Regions from separate parts of the Homo sapiens genome. Here all the other regions are linked to region 2. The links come from fine-mapping of genetic effects on gene expression. A gene starts in region 2. Each other region holds a variant in brackets. All regions are shown on one strand. Distances are from middle to middle.

Region 1 (5,000 bases), 27 kb before region 2:
GGCCTCTGATGGAAAAGTTACTAGGACAGCATACAATTTGTATAAAACACATTGCGGCCTTCCTGGTGTACCTTCCAGTCTCTCAGTTCCCTGGGTCCCATTAGATCCCAGCCTGTTATTACCATATCATATCCATCATGGAAGAATACCTTGTACTTTTCCACCGAAATCACTGGATACCACAACACAACAAAAGGTAAGATCTTTTTTGAAATTAAAGGTTCATTAGGTTGTTTATTATTCGTCTATTTCACTGACTTTACCGTATTTCACCCTGATGTTCTCATTGTCATATTAATCACAGCACCATTCTAAAAGCTATATCCATAGGAAGGATAAAGTTGTATGCCATGGTGAGTCCAGTCTTCGTGGTAGTGGAACTTTTTTATTTTTGCAAGATTTATAAGTCAACTAAAGAAAACTCTCTTAGCTTGCACAGTGGGTGTATGGGTAAGGCATCCATGTAGTTAAACCCTTATATTCCTATGAAAAGCAAAGTTGTGGGGTTTTTTGTAATTTTTATTTATATATACTGGGTTTCATTTCATTAAGTATTTTAGGCAATTTGCGGAAGAGTACATGTAATAAAATTATGATATAATTAAACATTGTTAATTAGGATGAGGAAAAAGAAGTAATAGCAGTTTGTGAACAGAGTGCCTAATTAAAAATATACCTAAAGTATCAAGGACTAAATTGTGTCTTTCTAGGTATTATGTAACTCAGTATTTACTGAATTACAATTAACATTACTCTCTTTATAGAACCCTTGCCAAAAGTAACAGTTGAATGACATTATCTGAAGCTTATAAACCCATAGCTAGAGTTATTCTCTGCTATGTCACTCATTCTGTATATTGTGTAGGAAATTCCAGTTCGAGTTTAGTTGTTAGAAAAGTTTTGCACTGGGCTGGGCGCAGTGGCTCACACCTATAATCCCAGGACTTTGGGAGGCCAAGGCGGGTGGATCATTTGAGGTCAGCAGTTTGAGACCAGCCTGACCAACATGGTGAAACCCCATCTCTACCAAAAATTAGCCTGGCATCATGGTGCACACCTGTAATCATTTCCAGCTACTGGAGAGGCTGAGGCAGGAGAATCGCTTGAACTTGGGAGGCAGAGGTTGCAGTGACCCAAGATCACTCTACTGCACTCCAGCCTGGGCTACAGAACGAGACTCTGTCTCAAAAAAAGAAAAGGAAAGAAAAAAGTTTTGCTCTCTACAAATGACTCTGAATGTGTTCAGGACACGATCCAGTATATTTTCCTTACTTACTGCCAAAAGTCTTTGAGTCAGAATTATTGTCTGAGTCATTATCTTCTCATTATGGTTGCCCCAGAGCATCTATCACTTGTGTATTCTTCCTTTTCACTGTCTGTACTATACTGAATTAATCTGTAAATGTCCTCAAATCCTTATGAGAAACAGCTGGAATGCAAATACTGAGGATTTTTAAATAATTTAAAGTAAACAGGGTTGTTTGTTTATGTCTTTCAGTTCTCCACTCTAAGTTACTGTTTGGGAGTATCCTTTTAGAAATGAGAACTCCTTGTACATTCCTACTTAGCTTTGGCCAAGAAAATATAAATGTTAAGTTGGGACAAGTGAAAGAATGGAGAAAGTTACTTGTTAGCATTTTAAGCTATTTTATCTTCAGTTTTGGTTGTCTGTTTCCAGTTTACTAGAAGTAGTAACTTTTATAACCTAAGGAAAAATTTTCTTAAGTAACTCAAAAATAATTGAAGAACTATTTTTGAAGGATCTGTGTTTTTCTAGGAGAATGATTTCCTTTTAATTTAGAAACACTGATTATAGTCTCTCACCTATAACATGTAATTCTGTGTGGGAGTGGTTTATTCCTTTTTAGTGAAAATGAACAGTTTAATACCTTGGAATTGAACAACTTTAAGTGAAAGGAAAAATGTATTATGTGTGTGCAAGGTGTTTCTAAAAAAATGAGTAATATACTTTCCTTATTGATATAGACTGACACTAAAATAGTGTTGAATGCTTTATGCTTTGGAAATACTTTAATGATTTGATTTTTTTTAAATAATGTCTAGAATGTGCTTTAGTACAATAACACAATTTGTAGTCATGTATCACTTAACGACAGGGATACATTCTGAGAAATGCAGCACTAGGCAATTTTGTCTTTGTTTAAATACCATAAGCTTACTTACACAAACCTAGAGGGTGTAGTCTACTACACACTTAGGCCGTATGGTATAGCCTATTGCTGTTAGGTAGTCTACAGACCTGTACAGCATGTTGCTGTACTGAATACTGTATGCCGTTGTAATACACTGGTATTTGGATATCTAAACGTAGACAAGGTAATACATTGCACTGTTATGTTGTAACAGCTGTGACATCACTAGATGATAGAAATTTTTCAGCTCCATTATAATCTTTTGGGACCACTGTTGTATATGTAGTTCATTTTGACCAAAATGTGACTGTATTTGGAAAAGGAGAAATTCCATATGTTCACAATTTGGCCACATAATTACAACAGTTCAATTACATGTGTATCACGGAGTGTGCTTCATGCATTCAGTCCAGGAACAAATACTTAACGAGATTATCCAGGCCCAGGTTGTTGTAGAGCCCAGCATTAGGTACAGTGGACAATTAGATAACTAATAGTTGGTTTGATATATTTTTGAAAGCCAGTGGAAAGTTTTTGGTGATCTACTCACCTCCCCACAATCTAGCCCTGTGTTTGATAGGAATTACCCCATCTTCTTCCCTACCTCCTAGCTAGGCCATGGGATTGGGCCTTCTAGTCCCAACCAATCTAAGTGCAAATATGGATTCTAGTTTTAGCAGCAATGGTAAGATGACAGCTTTCAGGAAACCAGGGAAGTAAGACCTATATGAAATAGAAATCATCTGCATATTTTCATGGTGTAAAAATTTGTTCAAACGTTTCTGCCTCTAATGTGATCCCATAGTCACGAGTCCACTTGAACTCT[GA/A]TCTCATCCTTGTATAGTGCCTTTGGTACTAACCCTGAGAGATATGCCAGTAGAGCCTGCATCTGCCTCCCTACTGCATCAAGTAGAGATTGTATTTAAGGGTCCCATTTGCTTCCTGGGCTACTTTTGACTTCTGCTTCCAGTCTTTCTTGCAGCAGCTTCACACTTATCCCTTTTTTCTTTCTACATCTTCTGTAATAAACATTTATTTTACACATTCAGACACACACAGTCTTGCAGTGGAGGTTTTCAAAATGCTTGCTTTTCTCAAAAATTTTAACAGATAGAATTAGTGTGGTCAATATACCTTTATAGGAAATACCAGCTGAGTGAGGAGTGGTATAGATCATCCAAAAGTCGCAGCACTTTTCTAATCAGTATATTACAAAATTTCATCAGATTCACACAGACAAATCTGTACTCAATTTGTCCTTTCTGGTCAGGTAAATGTAAATAAAAAAAAATGCTTTTTAAAGGGACAGTAGATATTAAATAAAGGAAGCCAGAGTCCGAGCTTTTTCAGTGAGTCTGTAACCCCTTGGAGCAAATGCCAATAGTATTTCTGTTGGGCTAGCATTATGAGAGAGAGTGCTTGGAGTTACACTATCACCCTTCAGTCCCAGGCCTGAAATTGACTGGACGGGATATGAAGAAATAGAGGAGAACAAGGTGGCCAGGGAAAATAAAGGCAGATATGGGCAGGTTCTGTGGAAATAGTTTCAGGCTATACAGCTTTGGTCCTTCTCTGTGAGATTGGCCTTCTCCATTACTGTTTTTATAGATCACATCTTTAACATGACTACATAGCAAGGGATTCTGTATTAAGAATAGACCACCTTGGCTGGGCGCGGTGGCTCATGCCCATAATCCCAGCACTGTGGGAGGCTGAGGCGGGCAGATCACTTGAGGTCAGGAATTCCAGACCAGCCTAAACATGGTGAAACCCCATCTCTACTAATAATACAAAAGTTAGCCAGGCATGGTGACACACACCTGTAATCCCAGCTGCTCAGGAGTCTGGAGTCAGGAGAATCGCTTGAACCCAGGAGGTGGAGGTTGCAGTGAGCAGAGATCGCGCCAACTGTCCTCCAGCCTGGGTGACAGAGCGAGACTCTGTCTCAAAAGAAAAAAAATAGACCACCTCTCTTTGACTGTGTGAGCTAGAAAGTGAGGGTAAGGAAGGGTAGACTTGAAGGTAGAACCACAGCAAAGTTCCTTCCCCCATCCTCTGTATTCCCCCTTCCAGTTTTTTCTTCCCCTTTTCTTATTTCTTTCTTGCTCTCCTCTTTCAGCCCTTCAGGATTTCCCTGCTACTTGGGTTCTTGTCTTGAAACTTCCTTACACTTTTACTGTTTTTTTTTTACTTCCCTTTTTCTTAATCTTCATCTCTTTCCTCAATTTTCTTTCCTTATCTTCCCTACCCTTCTTATTATCTTTCTTGTTTGTCCATGTAATTTCTTCTCCCTGTTTACCACCTCTGACCTTCTTGTATTTCCTTTCGCTCCCTCCCTATTACTCCTTCCTTTTTCTTGTCCTTCAGTTTAATTATTTCAAACACATCACACATAAGGCCTGTCATTCCCTTGATTTCTAATTTATCTTTTCAACCTCTAATAAATTTAACACAGAGAATAGTTTCCCCATTCACTTTGCTCCCCATCTACTCAGATCTATCAACTTCTCTGATGGTTATTTGAAAGTTTAGTACTTAAAAATGTGTCAGATTAAAACTTGTTTAGAAACAGCCAGCTAGCTGGAGATGAAAAATATATAAGAGCTTATTTGCAAGGTGGTTAATACATGTATAAATACTACAGAGTTGACTGTATATAGGTATGTTGTAGATACATTAAGCTATTCTGTTCTCTGCTTCATCTCTTAGATTGGTGGAACGAGAATGCCTACACGCAGCCACAGGAATCCAGTTTCCATGGAAACCAAAAGCAGTTGCTTGCCTGCTCAGCAAGTTGAAACTGAAGGAGTGGCTCCACATAAAAGAAAAATAACTTGAGGACTGTAC
Region 2 (8,736 bases):
TAGTCAAATCTGCCTGAAGGGCTTGGGAAAGCCTTTGCTCTGCAGTAGAAAATAATATTTACTCTGAGGCTTGATGGATGAGGCAAAGTTCACCACTGAGGAAAGCAGGAAAGGGCATTCCAGCAGGAAAACAGGATGGAGGAAGGTACAAAGCATGAATGAGCCTGGCCTGTCCAGCAGTGGCACATGGAGCGGTGAAGAGTGAAGATGTGGGGGAATGAGGCTGCCCAGGTAGGTCAGAGCCCTGCTGGGAAGAGTTTCTGGAGAGGGGTCATATAATCAGAATTATGTCTCAGAAAGAGAATTCTGGCTGTCTCAGAGAATGAACTGAGGTCAAAAATGTCTGTTACAGCTGAGAAAGAGACATTGAAGTCACTGCAGATTTTTCCCTGGAAATGCCTCCAAACAAAATAGACATTGTGGTTTGTCCATACCAAGAGTACTCTGTGTGGTTTGGGTCATGACACGTGAATTCAACAAGGATTTATTGAGGTCTTACTATGCGTTCAGCAAGGCCAGCTGCTGCAAAGACTAAAAAAGCCAATGAAATAACTATGGCTTTTTTCATCACCTACAATATACCAGACATTCTTTATACATTTTTTAATCTTTTTTTTTTTTTTTGAGACGGAGTCTCACTCTGTTGCCAGGCTGGAATGCAGTGGCATAATCCTGGCTCACTGCAACCTCCGCCTCCCAGGTTCAAGCGATTCTCCTCCCTCAGCCTTCTGAGTAGCTGAGATTACAGGCACGCGCTACCAAGCCCAGCTAATTTTTGTATTTTTAGTAGAGACAGGGTTTCACCATGTTGGCCAGGATGGTCTGAATCTCTTGACCTTGTGATCCACCCGCCTTGGCCTTCCGAAGTGCTGGGATTACAGGTGTGAGCCACCACGCCCGGCAAAAACTTCTTTTTAAAGACTCCAAGAAAGATTTAATGTGGTACTTCGAAGACGATCTCAGGGCTTCTAAGAATCTTAAGTGCATTGTCCCACTGCAGCCTGACATGTAAAGTAGAGAGAGATCTATTTAAAAAAAAAAAAATGAATGTGAATCTTGGAACATGGAATTAAACCTCAGCAAGATTTATATAAATAAAGTTTTTGAGAAAATTGTATATAAATCTTGGAGCATGGTGTGAACCTTAATAAGATATGGAAAATCTACATGGTTTTTAAGATACTTGTATTAATGAAACAACTGCCAGCTTAAACCAGAAAAAGTGCAAAATGAAAAGAAGTTTCTAGACCTTTCAGTTTCTCCTGGCATGAATGAAGCAGACTGAGAGAACTGCTCAGCTACAAATATGGGCCATTCTTTTTTTTTTTTTTTTTCTTGAGACGGAGTCTCGCTCTGTCACCCATGCTGGAGTGCAGTGGTGCGATCTCAGCTCACTGCAACCTCCCCCTCCTGGGTTCAAGCCATTCTCCTGCTGCTCAGCCTCCCGAGTAGCTGGGACTACAGGCGCCCGCCACCACGCCCAGCTTAATTTTTTGTATTTTTAGTAGAAATGAGGTTTCACCATGTTGGTCAGGCTGGTCTTGATCTCCTGACCTCATGACCTGCCCTCCTCAGCCTCCCAAAGTGCTGGGATTACAGGCGTGAGCCACCATGCCTGGCCTGGGCCATTCTTAAGAAAAGGAAATACATCTTAAAGGGAGGAGCCTAGATATCAGAGGGCAAAACCAAAAACTTGAGTAGGGCAATGGATTAAAACAAGGATCAGCAAACTACAGCCCATAGGGCAAATCCAGCCTATTGCTTGTTTTTGCACAGCCTGTGAGCCAAGAGGCCTGGCAGCTTCAGCTTTTGCTTCTAGAAGGCTGGCTGCCATGACTACCGTGGTGTAGCAAAAGAGGAGAACCTGGAGGATGTAAGACCAAGGAAGAGAAAGGCCCAGCCTGCTCTTTGTCATTCTAGCAATCCCAGCTCAGGCGCCAGACGAATGAAGCTGCTTTCAATCTTCCAACCCCAACTAAGCTACCCAACCCAACATGCTGTGGAGGAGCACCAAGCTGTCCCCACTGGGTGTCCTGCTTAAATTGCAGAATTACAAGCAAGTAAATGGTTATGTTTAACCACTAAGTTTATGGGGATAATTTGTTATACTGCAAAGGTAACTGATACGAGGGCCTTGGGTGCATTATTTAATCCCTGGACTGGGCAGGAGATTTTATTTGGACTCCAATTTCTTCATATGTAAAAATCAAGAGCCGGGTATAGTAATTCACGCCTGTAATCCTAGAACTTTGGGAGGCTAAGGTAGGCAGATCACTTGAGCCCAGAAGTTCGGGACCAGCCTGAGCAGCATAGCAAGACTTTGTCGTCTCTACAAATAATAGAAAAATTAGCCAGGCTTGGTGGCGTGGGCCTGTGGTCCCAGCTACTCAAGAGGCTGAGAGGAGAGGATTTCTTGAGCCTCCGCAGTCAAGGCTGCGGTGAGCCCTAATCATGCCATGCGTTCCAGCCTGGGTGACAGTGTGAGATCTCAACTAAAAGATATAAGAATAATAATAGTAAAAATCAAGGATAGGGCAATTTAATCTCTAGGGTCCCTCCCTGCTTTAACATTCTATTATTCAGTGAATAATTGTATTTTATCATTCTATCACATTTAGTGAGTGCCTATCATTGCTAGCTAGGCGCTAGTAGGTGTTGAGTGCAGCAGATGAAGTGTGAACAAAACAAAGTCAAGCACTTAGAGAGCAATATGGACAACAGCAGACAATCTGAGGGCTGATGTAAACATTCTCCTCAACCAGGGGGGAAAATAGAGTCTTCTGACTAATAAAAGATCTTTTATACTGGAAGAACTGGCCTCACATTCCTCAGAAATAGCAAACTATGACTTCTAATAGCTTCATTTTTATGATAACATCAGTGCACATTTCTTTAGCATGATGCAAAGACTGGTGATTGTACAAATCTATAGAAGTTAGAATTTGTGGCATGCCCAAGATGAGCACAAAACTCTTTTGGACATTTGATGGCTTTTATATATTCCACATGATTTGAATTAAATTTTATCTTCTGTAAAGGGCCTATCACAGCACGATTAGGAGTAAGAGACTGTGGAACCTATCTTGAGATACACAGAAGGGAGGCTGAATCGTGCCCAATATTACTGTCTGCCTGTGTTCCCCTAACCTTCCAAAATGTTCACACAAAGTAAGCAGATAAACATTGTTTCTGACTTTGAAGCTTTCAGGCTAAATTGAAGAGCTATAAATGTAAATCAGCAATTGTACCCAAAGTGTTGCTTGATTTTCTATTTGGCTCTGTGGTAGGGCCCATCGCGTATAATTCCTCGTGAAAGCGCTGGGTAACAGAAAGCTTTGGGCGGGTTAAAAGACCTCAGCTGTGGCCGACTTTGCCTGTGTCACTCTATGCGAGTGGGCAGAGCACTGAATGTCTGTTGGCCTTGCTATCATTCTCTGATTCCCAGGAGTGAATTGACGCTCAAATGGAAAGTAAAAATGGATGTTAAGATAAATGGGAGATTGAAACACAGAATCATCAAAACCAGGAAAAAGAGCTGCAGGAAGTAGTGTGCAAGGAGGGGTTTAAAAAACGCAGCCAGAGATCCTCGGGATTCTCAGCGTCGCTTTCCTGTTAGTTTGAGGTTCGAATACAGTATTTGCGTCGTCTCACATACAACAAATAGGTGTCTGCCTGCACGTTGCCAACGTGACTCTTGGAAGAAAAGCGAGAAGCAGCAAAACCGAGCAAGGGAGTTGGCTAAACGGCTGCAAGAAACACACACACACACACACACACACACACACACACGGAAGAAAAGCGAGAAACAGCAAAACCGAGCAAGAGAGTTGGCTAAACGGCTGCAAGAAACACACACACACACACACACACACGGAAGAAAAGTGAGAAACAGCAAAACCGAGCAAGGGAGTTGGCTAACTGGCTGCAAGAAACTCTCTATCTCACTCTCTCTCTCTCTCTCTGTGCTGCAAGAAACTCTCTCTCTCTCTCTCTCTCTCTCTCTCTCGGAAGAAAAGCGAGTAACAGCAACACCGAGCAAGGGAGTTGGCTAAACGGCTGCAAGAAACACACACACACACACACACACACCACACACGCACACACACACCCCAGCAGTCATGAAAGAAGGAGAGGAAAGTTCTTTGTTGAAACTCCGGGTTCGAAACACACACACACACACACACACACACACACACACACACACACACACACACACGAAACTCCGGGTTCAAAGCTATGGGCCCCACCCCGCTCAGGACTGCCTGCTACGAGGCCGCGCAGAGATGCCCCAGGCGCGGAGAGAAGCGGAGCACAGCCGTGCTAGGGACAGGGGCGCCACCCTGGGCGGGACTGAGGTGGGATCCTGGCTCCCGGCTTTGGCCTCCCAGCCCAGGCTCGGGGCTTCCTGGCCCTCGGAGGCCGGGGCGGGCCAGGCTTTGCAGCACAGGGCGAATCTCCCTCCCTCCCCGGGCGCCCCCCGGGAACTGGCGGCCAGAGGTTAAGCTGACATGTTTGCAGACGGTAATGGGGCGCTGGATGCCAACAGCCCCAGCTCAGGGGAGTCCAGATTTATGTTTCTTGGAACAATTCTTTCCTCCATTGCATTAACGCCAAAAAAAAAAAAAAAAAAAAAAAAACACTTAATCAAGCCCAGAGTCTACTACTAAAGTCTTGTTAATTTATTAACCCAAGCCGAGGCTGAGAGCTCGACGTGGCACTTAAGAAGTAAAATGAGGAAAGGAGGAAGAAACGGGGTCCCTGTGGGCCTCGGGGCAGCCTCGGCCGGGCTTTCTCGGAGGGCAGGGCCAGGGGCGCTGGGGCCGCTCCCGCGTGGCGCGGCTCGGGAGCGTTCCAGGGCGCGGTCCCTGCGGGCCGGCGGGCCGGGGTGAGTCACCCCTGACTTGGGGTGGGAGCGGGCCGTGTAAGGGGGAGGCGGGGCGGGGCGGGGCGGGCCTCGCCTCGCCTAGGGAGGATGTGGCGGGTATAAAAGCCCCACCCAGGCCAGCCGGCTCTGCTCAGCATTTGGGGACGCTCTCAGCTCTCGGCGCACGGCCCAGGTAAGCGGGGCGCGCCCTGCCCGCCCGCGATGGGCCGCCAGCTAGCGGGGTGTGGAGACGCTGGGAAGAAGGGTACGGCCTGGCAGGGAGGCCCCGGCAACTGGCCCCGGAGGCCGTCGGGGGCAGGGGGCTGAAGGGACGGCCGGCACTGGAGAGTCTTTGGGGAGGGGGCTCAGGGACAAGGTGTTTGGGGCAGGGGTGAGGGGCCACCGGCCCTCGGGCCGGGAGGGTGCAGGGCAGAGGTGGTGGGGGGTCGGGCTTCTCTAAGAAGCCCTAGCGGGAGCGGGGCGAGGCGGCGTGGGGAGAGGGGCGGAGGGAGGCCCCGCATTCCAGACGCGCCAGGCGCCGCCGAGGCAGGGCGTGGCCGCCCAGGGAGCCGCAGGTCCCCGGCGCAGCAGTAGCAAGTGGGCTTTCCACTGCCCTCTAGAAAGTGCCCCCCATCTGCTCTAAGTTACTGTACTCGAAACAAACGCGCGCTTGTGGAGTTGAACCGACCAGCAGGAGGGAAGTAGCGGGGGAAGACGAGAGGGGGGAGTGTGAGTAGGCACCCCTCAGCCCCCCATAAAAGAAGACATTAAAACGTCAGTTATTCCCCTTGCTCTAGGTTATCTTGTAGCATAGCAACTTCGGATTTCACTCTACCCGGAGAGTTTCCCGCTTGGTTGAACACATTGGCCTCAGGAAGGTAGTGTCCCCCATGATTCTGTGGGGAGGGTTGTCCTGTTACTCGCCATGATGTGACAATGAGTCAGGAACTGAGAGTAGAGAGAAGGGCGTGGCCCCGGGGCCTCTCCCTTCTGGCCGCTCTGTGCAGCTGGCCCCACTGCTGGTGTGGAGGGCTTGGGTTCCATCAGCCGGCTGTTGAGAAGAAGGAGGGGAACACAGATAAGTTTCCTCATCTGGGAAGGTGGCTTAAGGATGCCTATTCTTACCACCACCCAGAGTTATTGGAGATTTCAAAAAACACAGTCATTAGGTAATAAATGTGTAAAGTACACAAAAAACAAAGTGCTGTGCAAATGCAAAGTGTCATTTTTGTAGTAAGATTGCCGTTTTAAAGCTGTGGGTGTTCTGAGTGCGTGTGTAAAAGAGCAGTGGCCTCATGGGTGCACGCTGGGCCATTACCAAGAACCTTAAGTTGTTGGTGTGCAAAGGCCTGGGCCCCAGACTGTACTGATGGATTCTGTTCACACGTGTGTGCTACTGTGCCTGTCTGGAACTTGGTGACTTGGAATGCAGAATGCACTTTCCCACTGAAACAGTGTTGCAGAAGGTGCTGACGTTCCCAGGCTAGCCCTGAAAGACCTTTTTAACATGCACTGCCTGATTATGGGATTGGTGGTGGGGAGGTGGAGGGTAGTGAGGGGCAATGTGTGTGTAGGAAGACTAAATCACTGAAATATTTTTCTGGAACTTTTTTTAGCTTTAAGGTTGACACTGAGTAAATTATTTTAATTGGAAAATTATGTCTTTGCCCCTGTTCCACTTTCTTTTTTCCACCTTCCACCTCCTTAGAGACGCTCTTCTGGCTCTTCCGTGACGCATTACAACAGCCATCCAGGCCGGTCCAGTTACGCTGCATTCCTTCCTCCTTCCCATTTCGGCGGACCTGCATCCAGCTAGAGACTAGCAGATTGAATCGATATTCATTAAGTTAGGAATGGTTGGTGGTCCTAAGAGCCTCAGCAACCGAGAGGAGTCTTGTTATTTAAAAAACAACGATACTGGGCGTGGTCGTGGGCCTGTAGTCCCAGCTGCTCAAGCTAGTGGATCTCTTGAGTCCAAGGCCAATGTGAGCAACATAGCAAGACCCAGTCTCAAAAAATAAATACATAATAATAATAAAAAACCCTCGTTCACCTAAACAGATCTATAATTTATAGAATGTAAAGCAGCAATATTCAGGCAATATTAAGGAAGATTTTTGGTAAGACTGGGGCAGCAGAGGTGCCCTTGATGGGCAAGGGCCAGGAGTGTTAACACAGTCCTGCTTAGTAATTTCTTCCCTTCTTCCAAGTCTGTCGATTATCTAAAGGTCAAGGGTTTGTCCAAAAATGTCCCTTGCATCTGCAGTGGAAGGATGTGACATGTATGTGCATTTTTACAATTGGAGGTTTGTGATTTGGAGACCGTTTAGATTTTGTAATTTCCCGCAGTGCCAACTAGACTGCCTGTGGTAAATGCCCAGGAAATATTGCTGACTCACTGACTTTGATTAGGAGCTCAGTCTTGCACTGGAGTCTCAATATTTAGCATCTTGTGTCTTTGAGCTATTAAACTATGGTATTGATTGACATTAGGCTCGCAGTCATGGCCGTTAGTTTCCTGGCTAATTTCTGATTTAAGTAGTTTTCCTGGCAAAGTAGATGTGCTTCTATAATTGCTATTGATTTTGAGGGCTGTAGGCTCTTCCTACACCACTGGGCCTAGAATCTGGCACTAATGCATTGTCTGGAGCCTTTGTTCTCACCCTTCGCTTGTGCAGAGCCTGGAGCCTGCGGAGACATTTTTCATTAAAGGAGAGCGGGATTGTCACAAAAGGAGTCTCAGGCTCTAGTGGGCTGCTTTAAACAACCATTTATTCCACAAAATATTAATTACCTACTGTGTTCCACTCATAGTTATGAGCACTAGGGATACAGCAGTGAACAAAACAGACCCCCGCCAAAAATAAAATCCCTGCTCTTTAGACCTTAAATCTGGCGGAGAGAGAAGGAAAAGAGACAAAATAAGTGAATTGTTGGATTTTAAACTTTATATTTTCCCAAATTAATACTAGTTTCTAAACTTGGTGGGAGTTCATTTCCCCTTTAATCCAGCTGTTCCACAGACCTAAACTTCACATTTTACCTACCTCGGGGAAGTTTTGCTTAAAATTATGGTGTCTTAAGCTGCCTTCCAGATTCAATTGTGAGAATTAAATAGAAATGGAATGTTCCTCTTTTTTTTCACATGAGAATCCTCTTCACTTGCCCTGGTGCCACACCCTATTCTAGTTGTAGGCCACACCAGAGGAAATTCCAGTCCTTCAAAAAAATTCTTTCCACCCATTCACTGCCTGGTATCTTTTTTCTTCTGCTGTTGCCAGAGGCAGTCCTCATCTACTTTCTCCAGGGACAGGTCAGCAGTAGGGGTCAGGAGATGCCCATATTTGTCCTTCTGGGTGGTTCTACCAGATGACTTCCAAATCTCCCTTCTAGGGTACACCCTGAAGCTGTTTTTTTTTTTCTTTTTTTTTTCTTTTGAGATGGAGCCTGGCTCTGTCACCCAGCCTGGAGTGTAGTCGCACGATCTCTCCTCACTGTAGCCTCCGCCTCCCAGGTTCAAGTGATTCTCCAGCCTCACCCTCCCGAGTAGCTGGGATTACAGGTGCCTACCACCATGCCGGGCTAATCTTTGTATTTTTAGTAGAGACAGGGTTTCATCATGTTGGCCAGGCTGGTCTGGAACTGTTGAGCTCAAGTGATCCGCCTGTCTCGGCTTCCCAAACTGCTGGGATTACAGGCGTGAGCCACTATGCCTGGCCCACCCTGAAGCTTTTAATCCAGCTGAGCTCAACTGGACAGGTCGGTAGCACCCAAGTGGCCTGAGTTTTACCCCAGGTGTGGTGTAGAAATTTCTTATTCTAGGGAGTGACTGTGTTATGGAGCCCTTTGTCCATGTCCTTTGTCTCCCTGCC
Region 3 (5,000 bases), 65 kb before region 2:
TATTGTATCATTACATTTTATTCACATAATAGTTTGAACTGACCCACTGACTTCCCTTGTGAGAGAATAGCATTTAAAGCGTTATCCTGGTCCCTAAAAGTCTGAATGGCCTTTTAAAACTCGGTCAAGTGAACTTGTGCTCATTATGTTTGTGGTAACCAGCCACAAAATGATAAATTTCAACTCTGAGTTCATTTTTGGATACTTCACTCATTCATGCAAATTTATTAGTAAGACCTGTATATCATCCCAGCTTGTACCCTACCATCATTCATTGAGCCTACCAGAAAATTAAAGTATACTACTTAAACAGGCCAGGCGTGGTGGCTCACACCTCTAATCCCAGCACTTTGGGAGTCCGAGGTGGGTGGATCACCTGAGGTCAGGAGTTCGAGACCAGCCTGGTCAGCATAGTGAAACCCCATCTCTACTAAAAATAGCAAAATTAGCCAGTCGTGGTGGTGGGCGCTTGTAATCCCAGCTACTCAGGAGACTGAGGCAGGAGAATCGCTTGAACCCGGGAGGTGGAGGTTTGCAGTGAGCTAAGATTGTGCCATTGCAGTCCAGCCTAGGTGACAGAGCGATACCCTGTCTCAAAAAAAAAAAAAAAAAAGAATAAAGTATACTACTTAAATAATAACTATATATATATACACACACACATATTTGTAGTAGAGTTTATAAATATCAGTCTAAATTTGTTTAAGCCTTTAAAGCTGGTCACTGTGAACAATAGTGTTAATATATTTAACACTACTGAACTCTACACTTAAAAAGGGATAAGGTGGTAAATTTTACCGTAGCTTAAAAAAACAAAACTAGCCAGTCTAAGTTGAAGGACAGCAGGAGTGTTACACTTTCACTGTTTTTTTAAAAAGTCCGGACACGGTGACTCACACCTATTGTTTCAGCCCTTTGGGAGGCCGAGGCAGAAGGATTGAGCCCAGTAATTTGAAACTAACCTGGGCAACATAATAAAATCCCATCTATACAAAAAGAATTATCTGGCATGGTGGCATGTGCCTGTAGTCCTAGTCACAGCTACTTGGGAGGCTTAGGTGGGAAGATCACTTAAGCCCAGGAGGTGGAGGCTGCAGTGAGCCTTGATTGTGCTGCTACACTCCAGCTTGGATGACAGAACGTGACCCTGTCTCAGAAAAAGGAAGGAAAAAAAAAACACTGTAAGGAAGAATTTTGCTGTTAATACGAACCAGAAGAATGGTTCTTCTAAATAAACGAATTTGATTTTTATTTTCTGTGAACCTAAATATATCCAAAGGGAATGTCATAATTTTCTATGTGGAAAAGGAGCTGGCAGCTGTTCTTGTTTTGATAGTGCCTTTTAAAAGACCAGAATGATGTTTTTAATACATAAGTCATAGTCCAGGCTGGAGTGCAGTGGCACAATCCTAGCTCACTGCAGCCTTGAATTCCTGGGTTCAAGTGATCCTCCCCAGCTCAGCCTCCTGAATAACAAGGACATGGGCATATGCCACTGCAGCTAACTTTTTTTAGATACAGGGCCTCCTGTGTTCACCAGGCTGGTCTCAAACTCCTGACCTCAAAAATCCTTCTGCGTCAGCCTCTCAGAGTGCTGGGATTACAGCCCATCTTTCTTAGGAAGAGTCTTTACAAAGTTCTACAGTGGCCTGCATGATCTCTCCCCTCCCTCCCATCCCCCATCCTCACTTTCTACAAATTGCCCTATCAGTTATTCTTCCCCCACCTGCGGACTGGCCTTTACATTTCTTCAATACTGCAAGCATAGTCCTGCCTTAAGTCCTTTGGCATTTGGGGTTTCTATTTTTCTCAATCTATTCCCCGGATTTCTGCGTGTAGTAGTGTCTTGATTCTTTTAGGTCTCTGTCTGTTCAGATGTCACCTATCAATGAGGGTGTCCCTGATTACCCTATGGAATGTAGTATGACCCTCACTTTTCCCTTTACCACATTTTATTTTTGCTTATTGTCCTTCCCCTCACTGTTTTTGTAAAACAGTGCCTTTTTGTAAGTGCTGTTTTATTCACTCGTGGTCTTCCAATGACTAGAACAGTGTATGGCACGCTTAAGTGCTCAGGTGCTCAATGTAGATATTTCTTAGGTGAATATAAAACTGTACTTTATTAACAAAGTACATTACTTGGTAGCTAATGATAAATGATAAACATCATCATGTTTTTTTCCATATTGATGTGGCAGCACATTTTCTCCAAGTTGTATTTTACATCCCCATCCCAAAGATTCACTGATATTTTTCTGAGATCTTTTAGTTTTAAAATTTTATGTTGTACAATGTCACGTACATATGGAAAAGTATATAGAACGAAAGAAAAAATAGATGCAGCTTAACAGATAATTATATAGTAAACATCTACGTAACTCTTGTCCAGGTCAAGAAATAAAATAATGCCAGTAATTCAGAAGCCCCCTGTGTAGTCCTCTTGTATAATAAATAACATTCTCCTTACTTGAGTGAATAATCAGTGTCCCAGCTTTGGTGGTGATAAGTTCTGTGCTTTTTGTGTGTGTATGGAGGGTGGTAGTTCTACTTCTCTTTTGCCTGATTTTGTTGGGATTTTTTTTTCTTTTTTTAAGAGACGGAGCTTCGCTCTTGTCGCCCAGGCTAGAGTGCAATGGCACGATCTCAGCCCACTGCAACCTCTGCCTCCAGGGTTCAAGCTGTTCTGCTTCCGCCTTCCAAGTAGCTGGGATTACAGGCTCCTGCCACCACGCCCAGCTAATTTTTGTGTTTTTAGTAGAAATGGGGTTTCACCGTATTGGCCAGGCTGGTCTCGAACTCCTGACCTCAGGCGATTTACCTGCCTCGGCCTCCCAAAGTGCTGGTTTATAGGCGTGAGCCACCGTGCTTGGCCCTTTTTGCCTGATTTTGAATTTTATGGGAACAGAATCCTTTTGGGCCTTCCTTCTTTCATTCAGTATTGTGCTTTTTGATTCTTAGGTTGT[A/G]TGAGTTGTAGTTCATTCATTTTCATTTCTGTCCATTTTTCCATTATATTAATAAATTACAATTTATCCTGTTGATCGGAACTTGGGTTGTTTCCATTTGGGAGCTTATTCTAAGCAGTACTCTTAAGAAAATTCTCATACATTTCTTTTGGTACACATACGCACACGTTTCTGTTCGATATACAGATGCTTCTTGACTCACGATAGAGTTACATCTCAGTAAACCTGTAATGAATTAAAGATGCATACACCTCATCTACCAAATATCATAGTGTATTTTATCCTACTCTACATATGCTCACAATACTTATATTTACTTACAATTAGGCATAATCATCTAACACAAAGCCTATTTTATAATAAATTATTGAGTGTCTTGTAATTTATTGAATGCTGTACGTTGTGACAAAATTGCAATGGTTTGGCACCATCATAAATTTGGAAAATCATTTAGTGGAACCTTCATAAGTTGGGAACTGTTTGTATACCTATAAGTGGAATTATTCGGTCATAGAGTATGCGTATCTTCAACTTGAGTAGATTTGCAAATGGTTTTCCAAAGTGGCTATACCAGGTTATATCAATTTACATTCTAACCAGCAGTGTTTAAGAGTTCTGTTGCTCCACATCTCAGACATATATATATATGTATATAGAGGGAGAGAGAGAGGGAGAGCGAGAGCCAGAGAGAGCGCATGTTTTCATATGTTCCTGCTCACTTTTTCTTGCAGAATGACTGTTCATTTTTTCTAATTGATATGTAAGATTTCTTTGTATATTCCAAATACAAAAACTTTATGGGCTATGTATGTTGCAGTTTTTCTCCTTTTTCTGTTTTGAATTTTATCTTTTTCTATTGACAAGTTAAAATTGTATATATTTATTTTGTACTGTATGTTTTTTAAATATGTATACATTGTGGAAAGGCCAAACCGGACTAATTAACATATGCATTACCTCACAAACCTGTTTTTTTGTTGTGAGAACACTTAAAATCTACTCTCTTAGCAGTTTTCAAGAACACAATACATTGTAATTAACTATCATCACCATGTTTTATAATTGATCTCTTGAATTTTTCCTCCTGACTGAAATTTTATGTCAACTAACATTTTCCCCACCACCCCAGCTGTTAATGCTCACTGCCTAGATGTATTCATTCACTGTGGTTTGCACAGTTGTAATATTCTGATTGCATCATTTATTCATTGGAATACTTTTTAAAAGATATGCTTTCCCTTACTTACTATTTGGTTTCCCAGTTCATGTAGCTTACCATGTAGCAGAATAAATACTAGATTCTTTCCTTTTAAATACCACTTTTAAAAAAATTAGTTCCTTCTTATTCTCCAATGTTGGTGTCTTTTCTTTTTTTAAAATGTTATTATTAAATCATGGAGTTAAATATATATGTGTTTCTGTCCACTACGATTATTATCCTTTGTAAGCCTCAAATAGTATTAACTCACTGAGAGGCTCTTCCTACTGGCTTTTCAGTCAGTCTGGTAGTCTTTGAGGCTCATTTTGTACACTTCCTGCCCTGGCCCTGGAATCAGCCATTTTCAAGAGCCCTTGTTTCTTTTAGTGTGAAATGATATTTCAAGACTACAATCTGGGCACTATGGATGCTCCTGGGTTGATCATTGTTTTGAGAATAATTCAGTGGATAGAACTAGGAAATAGATTTAAAGGAAAAATACCTCATATGTCTCATTTGCTTTATCCCACATTACACTCACAACAGCCTCAAAATAACAATATTAATACTAGTGATCAATACGATTACTGAAAACAGTTGAAATTATTTTTCTTATGCTCTTCTCATTCTCCCCCACATTTTTTAAAAGATTGCACTGTGTTTTTATTGTTAGAGCATCATATAGTAGCCATTAAATACTAAAGCCTCCCTTTTAAATCCACATTTAATTTTTAAAACAATTTTATTAAGGTATAATTTACATATAAAAATTACTCATTTTAAGTGCATTTCTTTTGTGAAATGTCTATTGAAGTATTTTGCTGATTTTTTAATTTGCT

The links. PIP is the estimated chance that this variant, and not a neighbour inherited with it, causes the effect. A credible set is the group of variants that fine-mapping cannot tell apart.
Region 1: its variant is the best candidate, but not a certain one, in a credible set for the expression of ANXA2 in whole blood (INTERVAL, PIP 0.89).
Region 3: its variant is the best candidate, but not a certain one, in a credible set for the expression of ANXA2 in whole blood (TOPMed, PIP 0.70).

Annotation. Positions count from the first base shown.
Region 1 is chr15:60,423,625-60,428,624 of GRCh38, reverse strand. ICE2 (interactor of little elongation complex ELL subunit 2) reads left to right here. Exons shown (of 16, transcript NM_024611.6): 15 at 1-196; 16 at 4,863-5,000. The coding sequence ends at 4,991. Among named protein-coding and RNA genes, the nearest start is that of ANXA2, 28 kb to the right of the region's middle. The variant GA/A (reference allele first, on the strand shown) is at 2,980.
Region 2 is chr15:60,394,264-60,402,999 of GRCh38, reverse strand. ANXA2 (annexin A2) reads left to right here and starts at 5,014. Exons shown (of 13, transcript NM_004039.3): 1 at 5,014-5,057. RefSeq lists silencers at 4,282-4,591, 4,712-5,251, 5,322-5,461 and enhancers at 5,622-5,811, 5,832-5,881, 5,942-5,991, 5,485-6,076, 6,077-6,668.
Region 3 is chr15:60,461,364-60,466,363 of GRCh38, reverse strand. All of the region lies in intron 5 of ICE2 (interactor of little elongation complex ELL subunit 2), which reads left to right. Among named protein-coding and RNA genes, the nearest start is that of ICE2, 15 kb to the left of the region's middle. The variant A/G (reference allele first, on the strand shown) is at 2,964.